Linked DNA regions of Homo sapiens. The protein of the gene in region 3 interacts with the protein of the main gene of each other region in a pairwise test. Each region holds a gene or a part of one and is shown on either strand. Other genes may lie near its edges. The genes, in order: RFK, C18orf54 and CNTLN.

Evidence for each region.
Region 1: the proteins of CNTLN (region 3) and RFK interact in binary tests that used the Homo sapiens proteins (3 or more experiments, as listed by UniProt).
Region 2: the proteins of CNTLN (region 3) and C18orf54 interact in binary tests that used the Homo sapiens proteins (3 or more experiments, as listed by UniProt).

The regions. Positions count from the first base shown.
Region 1 is NC_000009.12:76,382,959-76,392,458, forward strand, and holds the end of RFK (riboflavin kinase), read right to left. Parts: coding exon 9,460-9,500; intron 5,699-9,459; coding exon 5,596-5,698; intron 4,572-5,595; coding exon 4,441-4,571; 3' UTR 2,568-4,440; downstream 1-2,567. UniProt on the Homo sapiens protein: Catalyzes the phosphorylation of riboflavin (vitamin B2) to form flavin-mononucleotide (FMN), hence rate-limiting enzyme in the synthesis of FAD. Essential for TNF-induced reactive oxygen species (ROS) production.
Region 2 is NC_000018.10:54,351,057-54,361,918, reverse strand, and holds the start of C18orf54 (lung adenoma susceptibility protein 2), read right to left. Parts: upstream 4,014-10,862; 5' UTR 3,844-4,013; exon of another isoform or gene 3,146-3,843; 5' UTR 3,049-3,145; intron 3,034-3,048; exon of another isoform or gene 1,678-3,033; intron 1,393-1,677; 5' UTR 1,347-1,392; coding exon 1,064-1,346; intron 277-1,063; coding exon 1-276. Other genes in the region: STARD6 (stAR-related lipid transfer protein 6), read left to right, coding at 7,346-7,435, 7,783-7,865. UniProt on the Homo sapiens protein: Might play a role in cell proliferation.
Region 3 is NC_000009.12:17,458,897-17,468,995, reverse strand, and holds part of CNTLN (centlein), read right to left. Parts: intron 6,081-10,099; coding exon 5,983-6,080; intron 4,500-5,982; coding exon 4,373-4,499; intron 3,016-4,372; coding exon 2,878-3,015; intron 2,291-2,877; coding exon 2,105-2,290; intron 1,774-2,104; coding exon of another isoform or gene 1,672-1,773; exon of another isoform or gene 1-1,671. UniProt on the Homo sapiens protein: Required for centrosome cohesion and recruitment of CEP68 to centrosomes.

The DNA.
Region 1 (9,500 bases), about 59 Mb from region 3:
TTTATTGCTGTAGATCAGTGGTCCCCAACCTTTTTGGCACCAAGGACCAGTTTCCTGGAAGACAATTTTTTCATGGATGGGTCGTGGGGATGGTTTCCAGATGACATTCTTCCACTTCATTGGATTATTATAAGGAGTGAGCAACCTAGATCCCTCGCATGCATAGTTCACAACAGGCTTCACTCTCCTGGGAATCTAATGCCCCCGCTGATGTGACAGGAGGCGGAGCTCAGGTGGTGTATTAATCCATTCTCACACTGCTATAAAGAACTGCCTGAGACTGGGAAATTTATAAAGGAAAGAGGTTTAATTGACTCAGTTCCACATGGCTGGTGGCTTCCCCCATGATTCCCCTGTTCTCTTCCTTGACACGTGAGGATTATGGGGATTATAATTCAAGATGAGATTTGGGTGGGGACACAAAGCCTAACCAGATCAGGTGGTAATGCTCACTCGCCAGCGGCTTACCTCCTGCTATATGGCCCAGTTCCTAATGTACTAATCCGTGGCCACGGTACCAATCCATGGTCTGGGGTTGGGGACCCCAGCTGTAGATGATTTTTGCCTGTTCTTGAAATTTATACACATACGTGTTTTTGTGAGGTGTCTGGTTTCTTTTACTGTTCTTTTTCTAGCTTTTTGAGATGAAAGCTTAGATCATGACTCATCTTCAATCTTCTTTGTCTAATAGTATTTAAAACTATAAATCTTTTAAGTGTTAGCTGCATTCTACAAATGTTTGTCACATATTATCATTCATTACAAAATAGCTTTACATTGTGACATTTTTGTATTTTTATGCCTAATTTCTTTCTCCATTGCATTGTGTTCAGAATGTTCTTTGTAGCAGTCCTTAGACATTTGCTGATACTTTTACATATCGCAGACAATAGCTGCAATTGAAATCATCACTTGATTAGCTGATAATAGTCATTCTCCAAGATTTAGCAAATTTCTGTGCAGGCTAAACAGATATAATAGCAGCCTCTATCCTCAAACTTTCAGCTTTTTTTTTTTTTTTTTTTTTTTTTTTTTGAGACAGGGTCTCCCTTTGTTGTCCAAACTGGAGTGCAGTGGCTATTCATGGGCATGATTAGAGCATACTGCAGTCTTGAACTCAGGAGCTCAAGCTATTCTCCCAGCTCAGTTTACCGAATAGCTGGAACCATAGGCCCACCACACCACACCCAGCTAATCTTTCAGGATTTTTGATGATGACCTCTCCAATTTTCCTGGAGATGTAGCATTGTTGTGGTTTACTATCCTGGCTTCTACTTGGCACTTGTAATGGTCAGGGAAGCTAAGTGGAAATTCTGTCAATAGTCAAGTATGTCTATCTCAAATATACACGTGGGAACAAAAAATAAGCACAGGGTAGGTCCAGGGACTTACTGAGCTGCCTGAGAAATGACAACCTGGGGTTCAAATTCCATTTATGACCTGACCTAAAAGGAAGCCAATTGTCAAAGAAATGTAGAGTCACAGCGACATCAGAGTATCAATGGTGAATTTGGAGCTGACAGCACAGTCACAGACTTAAGTCTCATAGTTCACCAATTCTCTTGTTGTTTAATATGTATTTAACCCATCCATTGACTTTTTAATTTCAATTTTTCTTTATAACTATATATTTCGGACAATTCTCAATTATCTGCCCAATTTTTACTTTACTTTAAATGTTAATAGAGACAGGATCTTACTATGTTGCCCAGGCTGGAGTGCAGTGGCTACTTACAAGTACCCATAACAGCACACTACAGCCTTGAATTTCTGGCCTCAAGTAATCCTCCTGCTTCAGCCTCCCAAATAGCTAGGATTATAGGCACATGCCACAGCACCCAGCTGCCCAATTTTTATACAACACCTTGCCATTTTACCATTTTTGTTACTCTTTTACTTCATTACACATATTAAACAGTCATTTCAAATTCTATATCTGATAACCCTGGATCTGCCATCTCTGTAGAGCTTATTTTACAATTTGTTTCTGGCATCTTTTTTGGCAGAATAGGTTAGTTTCTTGGCTCCATCTCTGAAGACCAGACTTCCACTTCCATCTCCCAATCAGAATCATGTTTCATGGTAAGCTCTAACTGCAGGCTGTAAGCCTCCATAGTTGAGGAAGATGAGAGTTCTGGGGATGACTGTTCAAAGAGTACCAGCATGCAACAGAGAAAGGCAAACGAGTTCTAAGTTGCTGCTTATGGGGTTGGTGGCAAAAGACAAGAAGGTTACAGAACTCTGTTTTGGGGCAGGAGTTATGCAAGGGAACCCAGACCTATCTATACTCTTCTGGCTCTTCTATCTCCAAAATGTAACAGGAACCCTTACTCTCAGGAAGTGGACTTTAGTAGTGATGCCCTGTGATTGCTCTCCAAATAAACCTCAGTCACTGTGTTGCAGGCATAAAACACAGGGGATCCTGAAGGCAAGGCCCTTTGTTGTAGAACTACAGCTGCCACCTATATCTTGCTCTTCAGGCAACTTCACACACTTAAGAGTAGCAATCAGCCAACAAATTCGAAATACATAAAGTAAGATTCAAGCTGACACAGGGAAAGAAAAAATATCACTTAGTCAAAATTTATTTCAAGGCCTGAAAACATTCAGACTAATCAAAATGGTACTACTGTAACTTCTTATAATACATAATATAAAAGTTTTTGAAAGATATAGACACAATTAACCCCTAAACAACACACTATCTGATTCTCAAAAGCAATGGCTATTTAACAAGATGTAAAAGGACAATAACATATCAAAGAACTTTCACACACCTAAAGATAGCATTTAGCAGCAAGTTAGTCAGACAAAACAAACACAAATATTTTCACATTTCCTATGTTTGTTTTTAACTTTACTTCATAAAGCCACTGATAATTGAGGTTTCTTTCAAGTATAAGATTTCTAAAATTAAAAACTGTTTTTGACATATTTTTATAAAGAAATAAAAAGCAAAACGCAATCCAACTATTTATATGAGTCCCTCTTCTCCAACAGCTTTAGATGTTTTTCTGAGTACTTTTTACACAGAATATTTTTATTAAAATCAGTTCTAATTCATTTATGCAGATTAGGGGAAAATGATTCATAATAAATTAACTTTAAAATTACCTTCTATCTGCTTCTACCTCTATCCCCCCATCACCACCAAATCTGTTGCTACAGTGAACTGTAGCAATGTACTGTTTGAGGGGGCCCAAAGCATCTGTAATCTTAATTTCCCACATATTAGTTAGTAGGAGGAAAAATCCACAGTATGAAGGCTATTTAACTAAAACTTTATGCTTTTCCCTCAAGCTGTAAGTACTCTTTAGCATTAAATTACATCGTGCATATACAACTACACCCATTTAGATTTGCCTTGGAATATAATTTCAAGGCCTTAAATATTAAAAATAATTTTATAACTATTTCATAGTTTAATTGGCTCTTAAATAGTTTTGCTAGGGAGGAAACATTTTGTGTTCTTTAAGAAATTGATATGTGTAAATGTGTTCACTTAAATCTTGAGAAAACCTAAGGATGAAGTCTGTTGTTTTGTTTTTCCTAAAAAAGGAAAAAAGAACCAAAGAAAAATGTTGAAGAACAAGAATATTTACCATTAAAAAGAAGAAACATTATCCAACAAAAAGGAGACATATAGATTTGAAAACACTTATTTTACTGTCTTCAACAACAACAACAAACAGATAGGCAGGGGAAGTCCAGAGGACTCAGAATTGAAGCAGCTCTATACAATAATGAAGGTGGTACAATGATGTGACTGCAAAGAAAATGACTAAAACAAAACTTTACAAACATCTTCATGTTTGTAATGTATTAATGCACAAAATATCAAAAATAGAAAGTCTGAGTTTCTTCCCCGCAGGTTTATGATAAACTATCAACCTTCTATTTAATGCATTTCCTTTTTTTTTATTTATAGAGATGGAGTCTCGCTATGTTGCCCAGGCTGGTCTTGAACTCATGAGCTCAAGCAATCCTCCCACCTCGGCCTCCCAAAGTGCTGGGATTACCGGTGTGAGCCACTGCACTTGGCCTTAATGCATTTACTTTTATAAGCCTTCTCTGTTTAGAAGTACACACTACACAAGTACATACATGCTGGCATTTTACCATGAAAATTTTAGTTTTCATCTCAAACTAGTGACTTGCCTTTTTACCCATACTTATACACATGTAATACCTTTCTAGTGGTACATTTTAATCAATATATATTTTTTAAATCTTATTTTTAACTCAATCTTTTTAGTGCTATGATATGATGGGCTTAATTTAATAGTTGAAGCATGATATGATAACAACATTGTACGGTTTAAACTAATTCACAACTGTAGTAAAGTGTTTGATTTTCAGTATATAACCAAGATGATGCTGAACAGTAATAAACACAGAAACACTAGAAAACAGTGAATGAATAAATAATACAATTTTTCATCAGTGGCCATTCATTATTTTGCTTTTAGAAACCTGGAAGAAATTGTCTTCTTTGATTTTCAAATGTTCTGGTAACTCTAGTCGTTTCTTAGCTTCTTCAATATCACCTTGAATTGCTGAAATAAGTGACTCTGCAGAGAGAATATACCAGGTAAAAATGATGAAAAACCATTAACATACTTTTTACTACTACTCTGTTTAGCCAATCCTAAAAACTCACAGGCTGGCAGTATCTCTGCACAGGGTAGATACCCAATAAATGTTTGTTCCATCACTCCTTCCAGGCCTAAGTCAATGGTACACAAAAGATATGTCCCTAGGCCGGGGGCAGTGGCTCATGCCTGTAATCCCAGCACTTTGGGAAGCTGAGGCGGGCAGATCACCTGAAGTCCGGAGTTCGAGACCAGCCTGGCCAGCATGGTGAAACCTGACTCTACTAAAACTACAAAAATTAGCGGGGTGTGATGGTGGGTGCCTGTAATCCCAGCTACTCAGGAAGCTGAGGCAGGAGAATCGCTTGAACCTGGGAGGTGGAGGTTGCGGTGAGAGGGGGCGTCACTGCACTCCAGCCTGGGTAACAAAGAGCAAAACTCTGTCTCAAACAAACAAACAAACAAAGGTATGTCCCTAATCTTATATTTTAAGAGAAAGGCATAGGCATAAATGTACACTGCAAATATCAAATGGAGGAAAAAAGCATTCACTATTATTTTTGGTTGGTATTTACACTTGTAAAAGAAACTTTATAACAGAGTTAAAACTATCACACTACACTAATACATACCTGGTAACATGTTTCAAATGTTCTCTGATTTACTATATCTCAAACTTCACACATTTTGAAAGATTTCATTAACTTCATACCGCTGGAGAGAAGCAGCCAGCCTGCTAGGTTCAAAGCTAGACTCCGTTATTTACTATGTGACTTTGAGAATGTTACTTAATCTCTCTGTGCCATTTCCTCATCTGAGAAATAGGCAAAATAATCCCTCACAGGTGAAAGAAGATAGATTCACGTAAAGCACTTAAAACGGTGCCTGGCATATATTAAATGCTCAAATATTATCTGTCCTGCCATCATTATTACTGGTAGTAGTGGTAGAGTTACCTGTGGTAGCAGTAGTAGTATTTAAGAAGATCAAAATAAGAACTTACCTAAAGAATCAAAGTTCTTTTCTGGTCTCAGGTAGCCAACAATGGCCACATTGAGGATTTCCCCATAGAAGTCCTCTTTGAAGGTATGCATGATATGTGTTTCCTATAGTCAAGAAATGTTACAAAGAGTGCTATCAGACTACAGTGTACTGAAATCTGAAATACATCTTCATGTTTATGGTGAGTTAATTTAAATGAAACAATCAACACTCCTTAAACTTTTAAAGATTCAGGTTAAAATCTAAGTGCAGTTTTTCCTAAATTTTCCCAGCACTCCTGTTTGGATCTTATAAACCTAACTGAGTGAGGTGACAGTGTCTGGCATGATTTGCTGTTACTTAAAAACAAACAAACAAACAATAACAAAAAAACTGACACGTATCCAAGGAAGTAAGTATCTTATCAAGGTGAGAAAACAGGACACCAAAGAGGGAATGAGCAAAGTATTAAAAGATGTTACTACTAAACAACTAGTTGTTAAGGTCAGTCAGCATTTGCACACGTCTGACACACAACATGTATGGAAACTTCAGAGTTTGGCAGAGCTGAGGACTGAAGGGGCAGGAGAGCCAATGCAGCTTCCTGATCAGGGAGTAAAGTGGCAAAAGGGTACACAGCACATTAAAGCAAAATGCCGCATGACGTAGAAAGTGCCTCAGAATCTAGTTCAGCTAAATCATCTGGGCAGTACTGTGGTTAAGAGGTTAAGAGCACTGACTTAGAGTCAAAAGTCTGGGTTCCCACACTTGGTTAACTGTATAACTAGCTTCCGCGGGGCTCAGTTTTCTCGTCTGTAATGGGTGGGGGGCGGCTTGAGTTAGAAGATACATAAAGTGCCCCATGACTTTGGGGCTATGAACCAATATATTCTTTCTTTTCAGTAAACATTTGAATAATAAAAAAGAAACTAAGATATGTAAGACTGGTTGGGTGCAGTAGTTCATGCCTGTAATCCCAGCACTTTGGGAGGCGGAGCCAGGAGGATCACTTGAGGTCAAGAGTTCAAGACCAGCTTGGCCAACATGGTGGAACCCGGTACTCTACTAAAAACACAAAAATTAGCTGGGCATGGTGGCGCATGCCTATAGTCCCAGCTACTCAGGAGGCTGAGGCAGGAGAATTGCTCAAACCCAGGAGGCGGAGGTTGCAGTGAGCCAAGATCACACCACTGCACTCCAGCACTCTAGCCTTGGCGACAGAGCGAAGACTCCATCTCAAAAAAAAATTTAAAAATAATTTTAAAAAATATGTAAGACCCTGACACTGACAATTACAAGACATTATTGAGAGAAATGGCAAACTTCCCAAAGTAATCTACGAATTCAATGCTGCCCCAATCAAAATCCTAGCAGGTTTTTTAAAATAGGAGAAACTGACAAGTGATTCTAAAATTTATATGGAAAAACCAAAATTATTCATGAAAATCTTGAGAACAAAACTAGAGGGCTTATACAACTAGGTATCAAGACCTATGATAAGACAAGCAAACCAAGTATGTATGTGAATTTTTGGACTCACACACATATAAGGTCACTTGATTTATGTCCCAGGTGACACTACAGCACTGTTGTGAAAGCATGGTATTTTCAATGAATAGGCTGGGTCAATTCTACATCCATATGGAAAAAAATATTAATTTAAATCCCTATCAGATACCATACTAAAAAAGTCAATTTGAAGATATGTCAGTCAATTAAACTTTTAGAAAAAAACCACAGACAAGTATCTTCATGACTTTGGAGTAGTCAAAGATTTCTGAAACAGATTATATAAAGCACTAACTATAAAAAAAATATTGAACTGGATTGTATTAAAATTAAGAACCTCTGGGCTGGGTGCCATGCTCATGCCTGTAATCCTGGCACTTTGGGAGGCTGAGGCAGGAGGACTGCTTGAGCCCAAAAGTTTGAGACCAGTCTGTGTAACATGCTGAAATCTCATCTCTATAAAAAAATTTAAAAATAGCCAAGCATGGTGGCACATGCCTGTGGTCCTAGCTACTCGGGAGGCTGTGATGGGAGGATCACTTCAGCCCAGAAAGTTGAGGCTGCAGTGAGCTGAGATTGCACCACTGCACTGCAGCCTGGGTGACAGAGCAAGACCCTATCTGAAAATACAAAACAAAACAAAACTCTGTTCTTCAACACACCATTGAGAAAAAAAAAAAAAAAACCACACACACACACACAATGAAAGAAATTTGTAATACAACAATACACAGTTCCAACAAAGGAAGTGGATCTAGATGTGTTACTAAGAACTTATTTAAGGTCAGTAAGATAACGCTTTTTTTTTTTTTAAAGGACAAAGGTCTGGCACAGGCACTTCACAGATGTGTGTTACTGGCAAAGGCAAGCAAAAGTTCAATTTTCCACTGGTAAGATATGCCTATGTTTCAAATTCAATTTTTCCTAACACTCAAAAGGCATTCCTTAACTGGCTGTATAATAACATTTTTGTTATCTAAGTAGCTAAAGACAAATTAGTTATGGGCTATTGTCCCCTCCCCTTCTTTTCCTTCCTCATTCAACAGAATGGTATTTTGTGATCTTTCGATTGTTTTCCTTGTCTCCAAAAAATAATTTTCAAATCATTAATACTGAAAAATAACTGAAATACTGAGCAAAATGTTAAGTACTTCTGCGTCATTACTATTGCTTACGCCAGCATTTAGCTCTGTAGTTTTCCAGCAGTGACACACTTCACTTCTATTAACTCCACACAGAACAAAATTTAGCTTCACTGTAATTTGTTTTTGCCACACATTTGAGCTGACAAAAGATTCAGCCAAATCTAACAGATAAAACACTGAAGTTGTGGGGTCCTGTAAAGAGTAGGGCAGAAAAGTATACCCTCAGGTGGTTTAAAAAGGAAAGAGAAAAGCACCAATGTGGGACTGTATCAATAAGCACCATCCTCCATCCACCATCCATGTAGTAAACTGTTTTATCTTAAGAGGGTGACCAAGCGCAATTGATGCATGAAGTAAATGGTGAATGAAGTGCATTAATTGTGGCAAGCTCAATTTTATGAAACAGGCTTTTAAATCATTTTTATCTTTGGTCAAGTGAGTCTTTCACAGACAGCAATTATCAAAGTCAGTATTATAATTTTGGTTTGTAACTCCACTCTTTATTTTCTACATAATTTAAAAAATAAATGCATAAAAAAACCAATTATTAATCTTTGTTATTGGGTACCACAATGTATAAGGATGTAATCTGAGCCAGATGCAGGCAGTGGCATGTACCTATAGTCCCAGCTCTCTGGAGGCTGGAGGAGGATTACTTGAGCCCATGAGTTTGAAGCTACAGTGTGCTACAACCTGGCCTGTGAACAGCTACTGCACTTCAGTCTGGGCAACATAGTGAGACCCCATCTTTAAAAAAAAAAAAAAAGATGCAATTTCTGAGTTCTGTATGCTATTGAAATTAAGTTGGTATAAACTCAAATTAAACTTTTAGAATTTCAGGATGTTAAATATAAACCCCATGGTAACCACAAAGACAGTATCTATAGAAATACACAGAAAGCAATGAGAAAGGAATTAAAATGTCACTACAAAACAAAACAAAACAAAAAGCACACTACCACAAAAGGCAGTAATAGAGGAAATGAGGGACATAAAAGTTATAAGGCATATAAAAAACAAATAGCAAAACAGTAGATGTCCCTCCTTATCAGAAATTACTTTAAATGTAAATGAATTAAACTCTCCAATTAAAAGACAGAGATTGCCCAAAATTCCAGTATTTGAACTACGTTGTGATTACCACTGATAAGCTATTTCTGTAACGAATACTGTAATATATTATTCTAAGTCATCATACCATTTTCGGTTACAGAGCAAAATATAATGCTTACCATAGACTTCTTCGTATTCTTGTAATATGGGTTCCATCCTA
Region 2 (10,862 bases), on a different chromosome or scaffold from region 3:
TAACAGGAGTAACAAAGTTATCCTTGCCCATGGAAGTGTAGGGTCCTTGAAAATGTGGATTCTTCTCAATGTCCAATGAACCCAGTCTTCCACGGCATTTCTTGTTTTTCTTGCTCGTTCGGTGACTCGGTCCAACATAAGTATAAGAAAATGATCCATCTGCTGGGAGTCTTAATAGATCATCAGTTGTTAGGCTCATGGAGTCTATGTCATTAACGGTGTGTCTTCTACAGGATATGAAGTTTGAGTGCTTTTTGTGATCAAGGTTTTCAAAAGCTGAAAAACGAAGAACAGTTTTGTTTATTACATACAAATATTTTATAATATCCAACAGTAAATGAGAATTAAGAATTTAAGAGGCATTTTGCTGCTTTCCCCTTATCCTCACTAAAGCTTTGATTAAAAGCATAAAAAGGTGTAGGTGGATAAAACAGGATGTGCTTTTTTTCTCACGATTCTTCGTTCTGTGTTAATTTCTACGTTTCTCTCCAACCTCCTGAATTTTCCTGTGTTCTCTAATTTACTGTTCCTTCAACTTTCATCATCTAGACATATCTGATACACTAATACAATCACAGTAACATTGGTCACTCAATATTGGTTGCAGCATAGAAAAAAATATGCTATTAAACTAGGTGGAAAAATAACTTGTTTTCTCACCTACAAACCCTTCAATGGCATGGATTATACATAGAGAACAGCTGTTCTCATTCTTTGCTTCCGGAATATATTGACCACATCCCTCCAAGAACTGAATACAAACTTTTTCTATTCTAGGGTCATTCTGCAAGTGTTAAGTAAAGTAGTAATTGACTTATCAACAACTGCATTTTCCAAACTTGTCTTCAAGGAAGCTTTATTATGGACAAACTCTTAACATCTTGTGAATATTACTGTTCCACAGAGAATTATATAATCATTTTACAAAAACACCCAGATCTCAATATTATGTTATTTTTACTCCAAAGTAACAAAAATAATGTCAAACTTTACAATACTACAGTACATCTCCCAAATGCTTCAAAACATCTGAACACAAAGAAAACAAAGAATAAAAGCATACCATTGTTTGGTTTGTAAATATAGTTGCAGAACTGTGACATATTAGTAAAATCCTCATCAATGTTAATTTTTCCAGTGCTTGCACCAGGATATATTTGGCCTAGATCAAAATCATCAATATAAGCCTGTAGAGCTTGAGAAGCAGATCTGTACAGCTTATCTTTATAGTGAAACGAGCCATCAGAATTAGAGGAATTACTACCACTCAGGGTGCAGCTTGCCAGCAGGGCAGATACTGAAGATTCCTGAGAACAAAGTCTATGTTTTGTCTTTGATTTCGCCATGGCTTCTTCAAAGTGGATTGTTTCTATTCATTTCCCTTAAAAACAACTGTAATACAAAAACGAAATGTTAAGATGCCAATTAAAAGTGACCATACACAAACAAAATTACTAAATATGTAAACCTTTTGTAATTTTCTTTAAATAATAAAATCCATTATCTATAACAGACACTCCTTGTTAGGAATTGTAGATTTTTGTTATATTTATTATTGTGAATTCCTTCATCAATGATTTAGAAAACATTTTTTGAGTACCTACTATGTGGCTGGAAGTATGTATACAAAAATTATCTGAGAATATACATGGAAAATACCAAGGAGAGAGTACTCACTTCTTAAAAAGTCCTAAAAACTACTTATGAACCTCTTTTCTCTTATGGTGATATATTCTATGACATCACAATACCTAATATTCCCCTATACATCATATTTTTCAAATCATAAGCCTACTACCATGTGCTGCAGATAATAGCGCTCAATAAATTTTTTAAAGCCATCAAATGAAGTATTCAAAACAAGAACAATGGAGAATATTCACTTTCAATGTTATAAATGCTAGTACATTTACAACATTTAACTGTAAATAAACTGCAGGTCTTATTCTGGAATGAGTTAGCAATATACACTTTTCCTAAAATAGTTAATCATTTCCTGACCTTCGTTTTTGGTACCACCCTCCCTATTTTCAATTCTTATGTTAAATGGATTCAGCTCACCTCTTTCAAAGGAAGCTTAAATAATGTGAAAATCAACTCAATGTGTTCTTCTGTTTTTCCATTATTAAAATTGAGAGAATCCCTGTCTACCTCAGTACAGTAACAGGATGTATATTTGAAAACCTAAGAAATCACAGAACGAACCGGCACTAATTCAGTCCATGATGACATTCTTTTTAAAATTAAATGAATGGATTTCCTATACTAAAAAAGTATTAATGTTGAGGACTTAACATATGCTATGATGTTATAATGTTTAATTTTTGGCTATAATTTTAGAAATATTTGTTATAACAACTTTTAATGTAATCTTAGTAACTATTAAATTTGGCTTTAAAACATCGAAAGTTTTCTAATTAAATAAGAGACAAAGTAAAACATCATCCTACCACAGCGTTAGAGCATGCAATGGCCATTACAAGAGATCTGACCGTGGTCAGTGCAAATGGCAGAACATAAGGTAACAGTTGTTTCGTCTCATTGATTTATCTGAATTCTGTAATACTGGTATATCTCTGACGAATGGCTAAACTAAGCCAGCTTTACCTTTTTCGTATCCCTTTTATTTAAAGAAGTTTAAACTCACTCAAGTAAATTTGTTTGGATAAGCCTGACCAAATGTTTTCTGTCTTTGAATGCCGAACAGGCTACTGATTTTATTTTACAAAACCTTGAAAGAGAAAGCTGTTGTATTGGTCTCCGTAAGTGGGTGATAACATTTACTAGTTATTTCAACTCACAGGACAGACAAAAAGAAAATGCACAATTTAAGTTTCATTATGAAAAGTTTTCCAACTTTTCCCCAAAAGAGTATACAAAAGTAGAATCGTTCAATAAACCCCTATGTACTCATCATCCTGCTTCCAACAATCGCTGAACAGACCCCAATTGTAGCTAAAGTGGGTAGGGACCCACCCACTTCTCCCCACTTCAGCCACAGGATTATTTTGAACCCCACATATCTCATGCAAATCCCATATATCTTACCATTTCCTCCGTACAGGCTTCAGTTCGAATCTCCAAAAGAAAATCCATCACGCGGAAGAACAGAATGTTAAACTTATTGACAACAAATTTTAACTAACTTTGATTCAAAAACAGAATGTTCAGTGTTAAATAGCCAATGGGAATATCGCACAGGAAATTAAGAACAACTCTTGGAAATAGCTCTGTGACTGCTAAGTTAGGAAAGGGAACGTTTGTTTACTCGGCAGCAGAAAACCAGGAACCCACCGACCGGCCAGCGAAGGTCGCCCGTCTCCAGCAGTGCGCATCGTTCCCCTACCCCGGGCGCCCTGAATTCCAATTTTTCCAGTCCCAATCAGGCGACACCCTCCCTTTGGTGTTCCACCGCCCGTCAGTCACAGACACAGACAAGTTCTTCAGTGAGATGCTTTTCACTCCGAAACCATTTATTCAGCAGCCAGGGCGAGCGCAGCAATGGACTGAAGGAGAAGTGTTCCGAAGCGACAGCCCCAGAGCGCAAGCCCCTTCCTGTCGCCGCCTCAGGTCCGCAGACGCCCGTGTGAGCCCCCTCCGCCGCGTCCCGCGACCCTCCCTCGCCCAGGGGGCACTCCCCCTACAGTGTTCTTCCTTCCACAGAGACTCCACAAGCGCCCTCCCTCAGGAGACGTCTCCTCCTCTTTCCTCGCCACTCTCCTTTCGCCTTTTCTCGGCTGTCACAGGATGGGACAACCCTCGAAAAGACACCCTCCTTTCCGTCCTAACTCACCCCTAAGGCCCCAAAATAAAAATAAAGGAAAACAAAAACAAAAACCGCACACTTCCACAGCTCTCCGCCGAAAGCTCAGGCCTGTTACCCAACGCGAGACACCACAAAGCATCCCCAACCCGGACACCGCCCCGCCTCAGGCTCGGCTCACTCGCAGCTTCCTCCGCAGTCACAGCAGAGCTCGACACCCGCGCTCGCTTTCAAACCGCCCCAACATGGCGCCGGCCTGCGGTGCGCATGCGCGGCAGTGGGGCGCCGGGCGCGAGCGGAGATGAGGGAGCGGCCGGAGAAGAGAGGATGCTGTTGAGCGTTAGGTCGCGACCCCTGCTGGAAGGTGCTGTTTCTCCCTCCTTTCTGGGGCTGGGAATGGGGGGATGTGGGCTGCATCCAAGTCGCTGCCCCCCACGCCCTTCCAACCTCCGTCACAGCTATTCTCGGCCAGTTTGCGCGGGGACTTGCTGATCTCCCTTCAGCCGGCCCCGGGGTCTGCGGGAGGGGACTGGGTGGGGAGGGAGACTTAAGGGCGCTGGCGGCTGTCGTTCCGGTCGCTGAGAGTCTGCCCCACAGCTCCAGTTTTTCCAAGTGAGTTCAGCCTCCCCGCTTCCAGAGCATCCCCCGCCAAAAATAAGATATCGTCTCAGCTAGTAGGCAGTCCCCCCTCACCACTTCTTTCACTCCCTCTTCAGTGCCTTTCCTCTCACACCCCGGAGCCTCTCACACACAAAGCAGATGGGAGATTGGAGACCCGAGTTTAGCCAGGGATGGGATTTAACAAACTCCTAGGAAGCCTTGATTCCCAGGGAAGAATGGCAGTGACCCCGCACGGATTGGGGACCCAGTCAGGCAGCTCAGAAAGAGGGTCATTGTACAAACAGATGTAAAGACTCACTAACATGTGTGAACCTGTCTGTAAGTCTGGAAGGAATCCAGTTTCAACCAATTGGTGTATCAAAAAAAGAGGCCATCCCAATGTTGGTTTATGTTTATTTTCCACTGACCCTATGAGTGAAGATATCCTTGACCATGAGTCCATCTGAATATGTTCCAGCTCATCCGACGTTCCACCACCATGTAATACAATTGTAGTCTTACTGTTTGCACTTTCTTCTTTTTACCCTTTGTAGCCTACTAAATTTTACCTTCCCTTTTCTCTTAGCAAATGAAAAAGTCCGGAAGCTATAACGTTCAGTTTAGTGGTTAAACACAGGTCTATTGTGGCAGTAATAGTTGGTGATTTGAAAATAAGACATACCCTGCTAGTGGTATGTCCCAATAATCTTCAAAGTCTCTAGATCAATTAATATCAAGTAGGTTTCCAATAGGAAATCAAGAACGGTGTTTTATATGCTAAGACGAGCCCTGGTCGGGGATTAACAATCCTTGTTAATTGTTAGTGACGTAAGCTTAAAAACTTAAATTTTTGTATCCACGTTCCACCTAAGTGTCTTTTTAAACTGAGTTCCTTTAAAATAGTTTCTTAAAGATTCTTTTTATAAACAGTATCTTTTAAAGTTTTTTGTACTATATTTTTCTTTCATCTTGGGGCATATATGTAGCAAATGTTTCCTAATGAAGACAAAGTATAGATAAAGGACACTGAGAAGATATAAAGAAAATTATCAAATATATTGACCTAATTCATGGATCAAAATAATTCTACTTCTGCCTTGTTTCCTCACAGGTTAAGAGATATGGAGATTTCCACAAGGATTTGGAGAGGAGCCCCAGTAGTTACTAAAATTCTGCATTAGATCTGTCAGGAAAGGTAAAGAAACCAGGACTCTGCTAGGAAAGAGGAGGTTATAATAATGGTTTACTAAAACTTTTCAAATATAGAGACTATCAACTACCTGTTGTGCCTTGCTGGAGAATTAAATAAGAGAAAATAGATTTATGATCCAACCTGAAGAGTTTTAAGTGAGAGCTAAGGAAGAAATGTTCCAATAATTAAACTTTAAGAAGGTTTATTTAAGTGCTTAAGGAAGCAGATCTTTGGAGAGTTTTTTAAATGATGGATTTATATGTGTCCATTTTTTTAAAGAGAAACTAACTATTTTGATAACCTAGTATAGGGCTCCACACTGTTTAAAGCATTTTTACATATATTAACTCAACTAATCCTTATAATGATTCGGTGAGATAGATATTATTATCCCCATTCTATAGATATGGAAGTTGAAGTTCAAAGGTTAAGCAATTTATCCAAAATAATATAGCTGTACTAAGTGACAAAGTCAGGATTTGAATCCAGTTCTGTTTTCACCTTACCTGCCAGCTTCCCCTAACTGAAAGCTGGATGATGACCCGAAGGACCAGTGAGACTGCAGCTTCCGGAACTCATTCACAGCAGTAATAGTTATGTCTAGTATCTTACTCAACTGTTGTTGCTACATCTACCACAGTGCCTGTCTCAGTCCTTTTGGGCTGCCATAAGAAATTACCAAAGACTGAATGACTTGTAAACAATAAATTTATTTCTCAGAGTTCTGGATCCTGGAAGTCTGAGATCTGGGTGCCAGCATGGTTAGGTTCTGGTGAGGGCCCTCTTCTGGTTGCAGACTGCTAACTTCTGGCAGTGTCCTCACATGGAAGAAGGGGCCATTGAGCTCCCTGGGGTCTCTTTTGTGAGGGCACTAATCCCATTCATAAGGGCTTTGCCCTCATGACCTAATCATCTCCTAATATCACCCTGGGAGTTAGGATTTCAACATATGAATTTTAGGGAGACATAAACATTCAGTCCATTGCAGTTTCTAACTTCAAGCAGGGTTCAATGTGTTTAAATTGAGTTGATTTAAACTTGATCCTATCTGAGGAGGTGACATTTAAGCAAAGATACCTATGAAACAGTCAGTTATATGAACACATTGCAGAAGACAGTGACAAGCAGAAGGAACAGCAAGTACAAAGAACCTGAAGTCAGAAATTGCTTTATTGTATGTGAGGAACAGCCAGGAGATCAAATGATTGGAGCTAAGTGGACAAGAAGAAGACTGGTAGGAGGTATATTTGAAGAGGAAGCCAGGGGTCAGATCGTGTAGTGCCACTGCTACGCACTTTAAATAATCCTCAAGAACACATAACCAACAGCTCATAATGCTTCACAAGACAAAGGACGTGTGATTAAACTGTTAGAAATTAAAATTATTTATTGAATGACTATCGCATGCCAGGCACTGGATAGAACCTTAAGCATATCATCTCATCTAATCCTCACGCTAATTCTACAAGACATATATTATCCTAATTTTACCTTGAGAGAAATGGAAAAACAGAAATATTAAGTAACATGCTTCACACAATAGGTGGCAGAGACAAGATATGACCCAGGTTTCTGATTTCAAAGTCTAGATTTTTCCACTATACCACAGTTTCTCATTTGAAAGACTGTAAGGAGAGAGGGGTTCATGCATACATGCATTCATCAAGTAATTATGTTCATTTCTATGTGACAGGCATTATAGAAATAATATTAAAATGTAAGATAGCACTTTTTAAGTTTTTATATGGTTATATTCTTACCAGTTGTTTGTTTTTAAAACTTGCAGATAGATGGACTTCAAGGCAATTGCCCAACAAACTGCCCAAGAAGTTTTAGGTTATAATCGAGATACATCAGGCTGGAAAGTGGTTAAAACTTCAGTAAGAAAATAAGTTAAATTATGTTTCAAGACTTTGTTTTTAAGTAAGAAACAATTCATTGTAAAGACTTTTTTAAAAAAATATTTTCTGTTCCAGGTGCAGTGGTGTGCACCTATAGTCCCAGCTACTCAGGAGGCTAACACAGGAGGACTGCTTGAGCACAGGAGTTTGAGGCTGTCATGCACCATGATTGTGCCTGTGAATAGCCAGTACACTACAGACTGGGCAACATAGTGAGACCCTGTCTCTGAAAAATATATATATATATTTTTTTCTTTTACAAACCAGAAAAAAAAGTGTTTTTACTTTTGTTAGTTTTTCATTTTCATTTTTCCTGCATTTGACAGCTAATTATTTGTGGATTTTTATTCCCCTTTGAGAAAAAGATAACTGTTTCCAGTAAGGCTTCTAGAAAATTCCATGGAAATCTGTGAGTACAATCTTCTATTTACAATTACTGTTTTAAATTCAATGCCATTGATGTATCTGGAATTTCAGTGCTGCTTCATTAGCTATAATAAATTATTTTATAGTAATAAATAGAAATTATTAAGTCACTAGGCAGAAATGTGATAATAATAAAATACAGCAATCAGATACCATCTAATCTTCTATTTTCAAATCTGATGACAATCAGATAAAAAATCTCTTCTAATTACTAATTCACTAAATAGGAAATTTTCACTTCAAGAAATAATTACTATAAAAGCAGATTGGTATTTTCTTGCTAACAGTAATATTTTATGGAATTTTAAACCCTTCATGTGTCCATTAAATGAACCACTAACAAGTAAAGTGTATTTCTTCATTTTATTTTATTTTCTTGAGACAGGGTCTTGCTCTGTCACCAGGCTGGAGTGCAGTGGCACAATCTCAGCTCACTGCAACCTGTGCCTTCTGGGCTCAAGCAGTCCTTCCGCCTCGGCCTCCTGAATAACTGGGACTACAGGTGCACACCACCACACCTGACTAATTTTTATATGTTTTTGTAGAGATGGGGTTGCCCAGGCCAGTCTCAAACTCCTGAGCCCAAGCGATCTGCCTGTCTTGGCTTCCCAAAGTGCTGGGATTACAGGTGTGAGCCACTGTGCCCAGCCTACTTCCTCATTTTAAATATGCATTTTTTTCTGTATGCTTCTTTTAAATATACTTTTAAGGATAAAATTATTTCAAATACAAGTACACTAAGGGAAAGTATATTGACTTTTTTTAGCTTAATCTTTCAGAGTTCATTTATTGCTCATGATAGTACATCAGGGCCATCAGATCATCAAATTTTATTCAATTCCTTTTCTTTTGGAGTCCACTCCTTCTTTCAACTACCTCATTTTATGTTTCTTGCTTTTTTAAAATTTCAATAAAATTTACCTATATTATATTTCAGCCCAATTTTTTACCATTGGACAAAGCTGATATGCTTTCTCCCACTCACTTTAACAATGATCAGGAAAATAATCCCTACCTTATTGAAATAATGGTTCTAATACAGGCACTTTCAAAAATAAACAGGGAGGAGTGGGTATGGTCAAGCCTAGGTACACTAGGGGAATTAACTTTTGGATAATTTGGCTTTTTGGTATCTTACAGATCAGACCAGTGTAGACAGCAACCTTGGCATTTTTTAAAAGCTTGGAAGTTATTTATTTAGTCTACAAGTAATTATTGAGTATTTATTTAGAGAGTGCTATACAAATGCCTAGAGCCAAAGAATAGGTTCTGTTAAGCTGTTCTAAAGCTTTACTGGAAATTTTCATCAGAGATATTTTACTCTTACATGCAAAACTAAACAATTGGTACTTTTTGCACTCACAGTTTGAGTGAAATTTATATGCACTGTATACTAGGTATTTATTGGTGCACAACAAATTATCCCATAACTTAGCTACTTAAACATTTATTATCTTATGGCTTCTCTGGATTAGGAATCCAGGAACAGCTTTGCTAGGTGCCTCTGCCTCAAGGAATCCACAAGGCTGTAATCAAGGTGTCAACAGGGCTTAGGTCTCATCTGAAGACTCAACTGAAGGAGGCTATGCTCCAAACTCACTCACATTGTTGTTGGCAAGATTCTCAAGTAGCTGGGACCACAGGCTAGTTCTTTGAAAAGAAAAAAATGGCAGACCATTAGTAAGATTAACCAAGAAAAGGAGAGAAGATCCAAATAAACTCAATTAGCAATGAAATGGGAGATATTACAGCCAATACCACAGAAATACAAAAAGATCATTCAGGGCTACTGTGAACACGTTTACATGCACAAGCTAGAAAATCTAGAGGAGATCGATAAATTCTGGGAAAAAATACAACCCTCCTAGATTAAATCAGGAAGAAATAGAAAATCTGAAAAAAAAAAACAAAAACAAGTAGCAAGATTGAAACAATAATTTTTTAAATTGCCAACAAAAAAGTCCAGAACGAGATGGATTCACAGCTGAATTTTATCAGACATTCAAAGAAAATTGGTATGATCTTACTGAAACTATTCCAAAAGATAGAGAAAGAAGGAATCCTCCATTCTATGAGGCCAGTATCACCCTAATAACAAAACCAGTAAAGGACATTAAAAAAAAAAAAAAAAAAAAAACGGACCAATATCCCTGATTAACACAAATGCAAAAATCCTCAACAAAATACTAGCTAACCTAATCCAACAGTATATCAAAAAGATAATATATACCATGATCAAATGCATTTCATACCCAGGATGTGGGGATGGTTTAACATACCCAAGTCAATAAATGTGATAGATCACATAACCAAAATTAAAAACAAAAATTTTGATCATCTCAATAGATGCAGAAAAAGCACTGGACAAAATCCAGCATCTCTTTTTGACTAAAACCCTCAACAAAATAGGCATAGAAGGAACTTACCTCAAAGAAGTAAAAGCCATCTATAACAAACCCACAGCCAACATTATGCTGAACAGGGAAAAGTTGAAAGCATTCCTCCTAAAAACTGGAACGGGAAAAGGATGCCCATTTTCACCACTTCTATTCAACATAGTACTGGAAGTCCTAGCCAGAGCAATCATGCAGATGGGTAAAGAGGAAGACAGACTGTCACTGTTGATCAGTGATATGATTGTATACCTATAAAACCCTAATGACTCATCCAAAAAGTTCCTAGATCTGATAAGTGAATAAAGTTTCAGGATAAAGTCAGTGTACACAAATCAGTAGCACTGCTATGCAGCAACAGTGACCAAGCTGAGAATGAAATAAAGAATTCAACCCCTTTTTCAACCACTGCAAAAAAAGAAATACTTAAGAATATATCTAAGCAAGATGGTGAGAGATCTCTACAAGGGAAACTGCAAAACACTGCTGAAAGAAATCACTGACACAAACAAATGGAAACACATCCCATGCTCATGGATGAGTAGAATCAGTATTGTGAAAATGACCCTACTGCCAAAACAATCTAC
Region 3 (10,099 bases):
TCCATATTTATCATCTTTCCCTATTATATAATCTTTGAAACATTATTCAAATTAAAAAGTCGTGAAAACACAGCAATCCTGAATTCATCTATTAAGACATCTACTCAATATCACTGTTGCTGAACAATATGAAGGACTAACATTACCCTTGAATAATTAGAGTTTAGATACCCACTTCATCATTAAATACTATTTATATCATTGGATATAAAGAAAAAGTTTCTTAAAGATAATTTTTGCTGAACTACTTTGTATGGAGAAATATACCCATTACCTTATCATGGAAGTCATGAAACTTCAAGTATATGATAATCAGATATACAGTCATGAAATTAATTTTTCTATTTTGAAAACTTCTGATTCTCATTCATCCTTCTTTTTTAAAGTGCCACATTCAAAGAATGTTTCAAGGAAAAACAATGATTAGCATTTTGAATAAATCTCATAATTATATATTTCATATTTTATATCTTAGCCAAAAGCTCCACAAACAAAATGCTAAGTTGAATATAAAACAAAAACCAAGATTTATGAAGGTAATACTCATAATAAAAATGGTTCTACATCATGAGTAAAATAATGACTATATATATATATAACTTTAATTTTAGTTTCAGGGATACATGTGCAGGTTGGTTCTGTAGATAAATTTTGTGTTGCAGGGGTTTCATGTACATACTATTTCATCACCCAGGTAATAAACATAGTACCCAATAGGTAGTTTTTCAGTTCTCATCCTCCTCCCACCCTCACCCTCAAGTAGGCCCCGATGTCTATTGTTGCCTTCTTTGTGTCCATGTGTACTCAATGTTTAGGTTCCACTTATAAGTGAGAACATGTGGTGTTGGTTTTTCCTTTGTGTGTTAGTTCACTTAGGATAATGGCCTCCAGCTCCATTCAAGTTGCTGCAAAGGACTTGATCTCATTCTTTTCTATGGCTGTGTAGTATCCTATGGTGTGTATGTACTACAATTTCTTAATCCAGTCTATTGTTTATGGGCATTTAGGTTGCTTCCATATCTTTGCTATTGTTAACAGTGCCGCAATGAACATACGCATGCATGTGTCTTTATGGTAGAAGGATTTATATTATTTTGGTTATGTACCCAATAATGGGATTGCTGGGTCAAATGGTAGTTCTGTTTTTCACTTTTTGAGAATTTCCAAACTGCTTTCCACAGTGGCTGAACTAATTTACATTCCCACCAGCAGGGTATAAGTCACAATATTTAATGAAAGTGTTCACTATAAGTTAAACAGTGAAACTATTCAACAAGCATTTACAAAAAATAGTGTTTTGAATCTGGAAAAGGTAAATTACATTTACTAAAATTAATACTTTGCAATCATTTAGGATCCTCAGAGGCAGGCATTATTGGCTTGACTTCACACCAGTTGAAATATTCATTAAAAGAGATAAAGGAGATAAAATGTTTTATCAATTCATTTTGCAGATATTTTTAAAATGAGAAAACTCCCAAGGTATCTATGATTTCCAAAGAAGCAAAGTAAGGAATTTCCTCTTCGTGGAGTACTCAATAGTGGCATAAAATGTTATTAACTTCTATGTCTAGGGGAATGAAGGCTTTCTAGGGCTCTTCAGCTTTTAGATAATTTCTAGATGGTACACCTCTGCAGATACTTGAGTTTGTCTTCTCTTTGTTCTGTTTGTCATGTGCCATTCCTCTGTCTATTCCATGTCTTGATAGTTTGTGGCCTGGGATTCAGATGTCTCTTAGCATCACTGAACACTGAGCAAGTTTCTGGTTGTTCCTGCTTGAACGATTTTCAAAAGGAGAGTAGGGTGGGAACAGCTTAATTCTTTCAACTTAAAACCTGTCCAGATGACTTGACTACTACAATTTCATAACTAAATTGACATTAAGAAAGAAATATTAATAAGATGGTAGAAAATTTTAAATTCAAACTATAAAAATAAATTCTTTATGGAGGAATTATTAGCAATGTGATAAATAGGGTAGAAGAAGATGCTTTCTGTGTTAGGAAAGCAGAAAGAAACTTTATTCCCCAAATCATCTCAAGTAGGCTACTGCCTATCTGCCTAAAGTAAAGTACAAGTTAGTAAACGACAAGTAATTCAAACCTTCACAAATGTGGTGAACTCTTCTACTTTTTCATTGGCTAACAGCAATGTCTTCTGTGCACCTTCTAGGACCTGTTCACTTTGCAATGCTAATTCTTGAAGCTGCTTAGATGCTGCTGTTTCAATTTCTGCCATTGCAGATTCAGTCTCACTTATTCTTGATACTAGGAGAGTAAGCTTGAGATCCTGCAAAAGATCAGCAGTCATAAAATAAAAGATATTTTATAAACAGATTTGGAAGAGTTAGTTATACATGTCAAATAAGGAAAATATTTTATTATTCTCTCTATGTATTTATTATTTGGGTAAAATTAATGATTATTTTCATTAACTTTCAATAAAACATCCTAAGTACATATTCTCATATACTTATCATCTAAATTAGTTTATGATTTTTAAAGATTACAAATAATTAAAAGCATGGAAGCTATTTTAGACCAAAAGATCCTCCACATAACATGGAAACATTTAGTTTGAAAGTTTAAGTGGGCCTACAAAATTTAGATCTACTTGTATAAATACCAGTGTTCAATAATAGTTTTCATTTCTTAAAAACTATCAAGACAAACACAACCTGTTTTCTCTAATACAGAAATATCTTTAATGTTAAACCAATGTTTGGCGTTTCATGTAGAGATACAAATCCTCTTTGCACTTATCTGAAGTGTTTAAGTAGCTTGTGGTTTTGGGAAGGAAAAAGCAACAATGTTAAAAATGAAACAAACACGATTATATTCCATCTGTAATCTAAAATGCCCTTTTTAAAAGCATACCTTTTTTTCTAACTCCTCTTTAGATTTCTGATACATCTGTTCATACTGTGACTTTTCTTTTACAGCAACGTTAAGTCTTTGCTTTAGTGAATCAATTGATACCTTCTTGTTGGAACATTCTTCAGTTAATGTCTTTACCTACATTAAAAGCATAAAGGTAATTATTATTGTTGAAGGCATTCTAGTAATATACTGTGTTTGTTCCAACAGAAACTAAATGAGTGAATGAGTCTACTTCCATTTATTTTCTCATAACGCTATCAAATTCAAGTATTATACTTACAGAACTCATATTATGAATGAAAGTAACAATCCTTAAATCAGTAACAAAAACTAAAATTGCACACAAACTAAATGAATACTGGTATGTTTATTCTTGCACCCAATAACACAATATTAATGTTCACTACATATCCATTAATTACTAATCTAAACTTCCTAAGGCAGGAGATGATTGTTTTGACTCTGAAACAAGCCAAGTTAAAGGTAACTTTCCATTGTATTCTCTAAAATAACTATTACATACCTTTTTTTGGATGAAATAAAACAATAGGATATTTTATATATATATATAGCTTATTTATAAGATTATAATATGTGTATGTAACTCAAAGCATAACAGAAAAAATAGTTTTTCAGTTTAATGCCACTAAAGATATATGTTATTTATATAAAGATTCCAAGGCTATGTATGAAATTATTATTGAAGTTAAAAAATAGCAAAATTGAAAGGATAACATTGAAAAAGCCTATAGGAAGTGATTTTAACTTGCACAGATGTGTGGAAGAGAAGAGAAAGAAAATCCATATGGATTTGTCATGCTCATGTAAAAGTTTCTTTCTTAAATCAATTTGACCTAAGAGATACTTAAATTTTCATTTTCAACAAGGAAAGTAAAGGAGATGTTCTCTCAGGTGTGGATAACATTTAGTGAATGCCAAAGCACAGGGTGCTTTATGAGTTGTGAAAAAAGCACCTTCAAAAAAAAAAAAACAAAAAAAACCCTTCTACTTTGGGTCATATATTACGTAACTACTTTAACTACAACTCCCTTTGCATGTACAACTCCATTCCCATGTAAAATTCATTAAGGGTATCCAAGAAGAAAGTACATTTTTAAAGAACTTCTGATAGTTATAGGTAATCAAGTTTTCACTAAGAAATATAAGCTTGATTCTATCATAAATTACAGTTTTAAATAAAATACTGAATAAAATGTAATTATGTATCCTAGAAATATTGAGGATTTTTAATCTTCTCATGGGATATTTATAAATAGAAACAGAATGTGTGGCCATATTATGTATGAGGTTTTAGAGAATTGAATTTTAAAATAAATAATGTACTTTCAGAGCAAAGAGTGTTACTTTGTAACAGTAAATACATATCCTATCAATATTTTCTATACATTTATTAGGATTAAATGTTTGTGGTAAGAGAGTAATTACAACAGGAAGTGATATTTTTAGTGTCAGTAAAGATAAAAATTGATACCTTTTTATCAAGATTTTGTAACATTTCACTAAAACTCTTGTTACTTTCCAAATTTACTTTCTGTCGAAATTTCAAGTCCTCTATCAAATGTCTTTTCATAGTTATATCCCTCTCCATTCGAGATATCCTTGAAAAAAAAAAAGGTGACATCAAGAGTGACAGAAAATACCTTAACAGTGGTGATATCTTACATTTTATCCAATATTATACCTACTGTTACTTTTTAAATGCTACGTGATATTGACACTGTAAATCAGTAAAATGAATTGCACTGCATAAGATATTGTTCTTTTAATATTTTGAACACTTGTAAAATCTATAGTTGTGACTTGGTAATTATATAATTACATATATGTATTAAAACAAAATATATAAGAAATGAGAAAAATTAATAACACTTATGAAAACTTAGAACTATTTCATTTAAATTACATTTTTACATTGCTGTGAAAAATCAAAGTGATATATGAAGATAATCAAAAGCATAAAAATGATAAGAAAAAAATCTTATACTTCAATAAACAAATGCAAACTCTTGTAATGAAACTAAATTAGCCATAATATCTTCTAATTTAATATAATTTGAGATTCAATCCACACAGCTGTTTAGCATAAGTTGATGAACTATTAAGTATAAAATGGTAGATGCTGTGAGAACCACTGCTACTGCTGCTGCTGCTGCTGCTACTACTAAAACAAGAATGACAATAGCTAACATGTATCGAAGGCTTACAATGTTCCAGTCACTGTTATAAGTGCTTTACATGTATTAACTCATTTATTCCTCGTAAGAACCTAATTTAATATTATTAAATTTAGGCATAGGCCTAGTAGGTAGGGAAGCCAGGATTCAAAGAGTGTTAATCTAGAGCCCTGTTAAACAATAAGCAAGACTTACTCTTAATTGATAAATAAACTTCAAAATATTATCAGTTAAAAAATTAACCAAGCTTTTTGTCTAATGCTTTTATCTATTCATATCACTTTTAAGTGCTCTTCACTTATAATGAGGTCTACAGGTGTGTTTGTGAGATACATATATCTCAAATGTATCAGTGACAACTGGAATTCTATCTAAACATCTTACTATTTCTAAGCAATAGTGTAGCTTTGAAAGATACAGAAAGAAAATAATTTTGATTCAGTGGGATAGAGCATTTAAAATCTTTGTACTGATAAACACAAGAGTACAAACTTCCATAACCTCCAGTTATTTTAAACACAAACAAAACTTTCCTTTTTTTACCTTAGCTTTATAAGCTTAGGCATTAAATCCAATACAAATACTAATCATATATTTGGGGGGCCAAATAACCACCACGTTGTAAAGTTTTTCATTCATTGTCTCGAAGCCATTAATTTGTATTTATTCAAAATTAAATATGTTTAATAACGGAAATTTAACTTCATCATTATCTAATTTAAAAAAGTAAATAGCTTGCCATTAATCATGCTATACATAGTATTCCTTAAACTTTCATCTTAGGTAGGTTTAAATATGAACTAGGGAAGGAAAACGTAAACATTAGCAGTTTCTTGGAGCACGTTTAATAGAGCTGGTTGCCACTAGGTGGCACCAAATACAATGGATAGAAATACAAAAACCATACTTTTCATGCATTTCCTTTATGTGTTCTTCTTTTGCTAGGAGTTCAAATTTCAAAGTCTTCACATTTGATGACTGTTTAGTGAGTTCATTAGTAGCATTCTAGATTAAAAATAGAAATAAATTTAAATATACCTTACAACCTTGGTCTAAGGCAGCATAAAAATAAGTGCCATTCTAAAGAAGAATACCTCTACAATAATTATGGTAAACAATAATTAAAATGAATATTTTAATATTTTAAATGCTTTATTTTATATGCTGTAATAGAAATAATAATACTAAAACTTTTATATAACATGCCAAACTATAGAGGAACACAATCATTTAAGAATTGCAAAGAGTATGTATCCAAAATACATTTACAGGAAATATGAGTTGTCCTGGTATAATGTAAATATGTGAATAATTAAGAATTTTAATGATTTAAGAAGATCACTTAAAACAAATACTGGATTTACTAACATCTTAGACGAAATATGGTCACAAATGCTTTGCTGCTCATCAAGCAGGGGAATCCATTTCCTAACCCACTGAACGTAGTCTGGCTTGTGACTTGCTTTGTCGAAAAGAATGCAGCAGAAATGAATTGTGTAAATTTCAGTTCCCAGGCCTTAAAGCTTTGTGGCTTCTCTCTTTCCCTTCTTGGAATGCTGCTCCAGGATCACCTTGCTAGGAATACAGTTGATGTATCATGTGGAAGTGTACCAAGGTACTCCAGCTGACAGGTAGTAGACCAATTGTCCGATCTATGAGTGAGGCTATTTTGTATCTTCCAACTAGGGAAATCTTTGGTTTGAAAAAATCCAGGGATATGAGGTAGCCCAGAAGAGACCAGCAAAAGAACTTCCCAGTCAACCCACAAAATCTTAAGAAATAATAAACTGTTGTTTTAAGCCACGATGTTTCGGGATAGTTTGTTAGAGAATAATGGTAACTGATAGAAAACCTCATGAATACTCAATCCTTCTTTACTTGAAGTTATTAATAATGCTACTTATTACATTATTTGTAAATAATTATTAGTTTTTCAAAGCAAAACATGTTTGTTCTGTGGTATTTGTTGTCAGTAGAGCCTAGGAACCAGAGGTGGTAACTAGAGTGTTAGAACACCTTTCAATTTTGACTCTAGTTCCAACTAAATGTGTAATCTAAGACATCACTTAGTCTTTTTGGTATTTAGTTTTTCCACACTCAAGATAGTGTTGACATACTCACATTAATCCATTTGTTAAGTTTTAAAGGTATTAAATGAATATAAATATAATAAAATATAATAGCTTTTAAAATATTTGGAGTAGTTATTTAGCTAATATTTCTAAACTACAATAAATTTTTTCTATTAGAACTATTCCTAGGTTTGGATGTTTGACTCATGCTAAAAATAATTTGAATTTGAAAAGATTAAACTATTAATTACCCAAGGTAAATGTAATTCATCAGACTGACTTTAAATATCTCATGGGTATAACATACAAATAAAACATTTGAAATAATTTTAATTTTTACATGAAACATTAATTTTTCTTAAAAACCCAAAGCTACCTCAACATGGTAACTCTTTTGAATGTTATGTTTTGATCAAATGTGTGTGTAATGTAATCAAAATTTCTACCATATTTTGCACGTTTACAGTGATGTATTGTGTCTTATTTCCAGCACTGCCTGAATAACATGTTCCACACTAGTCACACTAGTCAATTTATCAAATAATTGAAGCGTTTGCTTCAATCATTAATTTTCAATTCTTTCTCTGATGATTGTTCATTCAGTTAGAAATACGGACACCCATGATTATGCTAAGCTAATAGTGATATGTTAATATAGTGATATCATATCATAAATATTATCACTATAAATTATATATGATATACTAATATGTATTATATTATCACTATACTATAATATAGTGATGGCTTTAGGGACTACTGTGATATAAACGTCTACTTATCGCTCCTCTAAATGGTCCCAGACTGTGCTTTTCTAATTTTGTATTTACCTTAACATTTTCATATTGCCTTTTTTTCTCTGTCAATCTTTTGTTTGTAATTTTTTGCTTCTGTGTCATTATTCCTGCCTAAAAACAATCATCCTACCCCTTAATACGCATACTTCTAGTGTGCTGCACTGAAGGTGTTTTCTGCTGAGAAGTAAAATAAACTTAGAATTGTATTTAAAATAAAAGATACAGGCAGTAAATAAAGCCTGACAGTATCTTCAATGCAATGAGTTAAGTAGATATTAAGATAACTAGTTGATTCTTTTCTGTTTTTAGACTTAAGGCTGTATTATGTGGCTGAAAATGCTGTTAACTCTGACTTGGAGAATTGAGAGAAAAGCAATTTATAATAAATAAAACAATGCCAGGTTGAGATACACTTTGGCCAAGATCTCTAAATCTAACAGCTATTTCATTTGATCCTCAAAAATTTTTATCAGATGGGTAGAAAGGTATCCCTGCTTTAGACCTCTAGAGAAGTTAAGTAATTTCCTTGACCAGGTTGACGAGAAGTTAATGGCCAAAAAGTGATCGAAACCCAGCTCCTTTGTCCCTTTTCCATTCCCTACTATACAATATATATCTGTAACATAACTTAAAATCTGGTAATTTCCTTGTAATACATCCTTTGATGTATGATGTGAAACACACACATCAAAAATGTCACAATGGTAAAAAGTCATCCCTGTTACAGCTTTCCTATACTAAGTTTATTGAATATTTTTTTAAAATTTGCATAGTATAGTAATTAGGAGCATGGACTATGGAGCCAGATGGTTTGAGTTCTCATCTCGGCTCTATGTACAGTACTTGTGTGATCTCGGACAAGTAACTTATTCTTTCTGTGTCTCAGTTTTCTCAACTGTAAATGAACCAGAGACATCAGAAAAGTATATGTAAAATTACACAGAAAAGTCTAATATTAACTGGATAGTATAGAAAAGATGTATATAAACTTTTAGTATATTCGAATCTAGCCAATTTTCTCAATTAAGTCTAAAAACATTAAGTAGAAAATAAGCTACTTATTAGAAAATCACTATATTAGCAGTTTGATATCTGTTATGTGCTAAATTCTGTTTCCCCTAAACAAATTAGTATGTAGAAGTTCTCACCGAACCCTCAGTACTTTAGAATGTGACTGTATTTGGAGATAAGGCCTTTAAACAGATAATTCAGGTAAAATGAGGTTATTAGGGTGGAATCTAATTCAGTCTGAGTGGTGCCTTTATAAAAAGGGAAATTAGGACACAGACACATAGAAGGAAGACCATGTAAAGACACAGGCAGAAGACAGCCATCTACAAACCAAGGAGAGAGGCCTCAAAAGAAATGAAAACTGTTGACACCTTGATCTTAGACTTCCAGCCTTCAGAACTGTGAGAATAATATATACGTTTGCTATTTAAGATAACCAGTCTGTGGTATTTTGTTACGGAATCTCTACAAACCAGCATCAAAACAAAAATTTTTAGTAGTAGACAATATTATGTACTTAAAGGTACTTGGTCTTCTAGGAAATTTCTATGTGAAAACATGAAACAAGACAAAAGTAAAAACTTATCCTTTTTGTCCCTATACAGTTTGGTCAGTGTTCCAAGACTCTATGTTAGATTATGGACAATCACTTCACACTAATTGCTTTAGTTCTCTTTCTGACTCACACATTCCTCCAAAGCAAGAGAGAGATTTGTATGTGGGGTAAAAACTTATACCATGGAAAACCATAATGCAAAGAACTTACAGACACTCATATGGATCTATTATTACCAAAAATTATTAGACCATTTGTAGTAAGTAAAATAAGTAAAATATAAATCAACTAAAAACTGTTTATGTAAAAATTATAAATTATGATTTATGTATAAATCAACTTAAAACTATTTATGTCTTTTAGAAGTCAGATTAGACAATACTGGACCTAGCACTCTATTTTATCTTGGTGAAAAACAAAGTTATATCAGAATCATGAGGACTTAAATATATGAAGAATCACAGAAGTAAGAATTAAAGTCTATGTGATAGATAAGATCAAGGAATAGCTCAATGATTTTATCTTCTCTATATGAAACCTTAACACTGAAATGTTCAGTTTACACATTTTATCCCACATTTTCAGAGA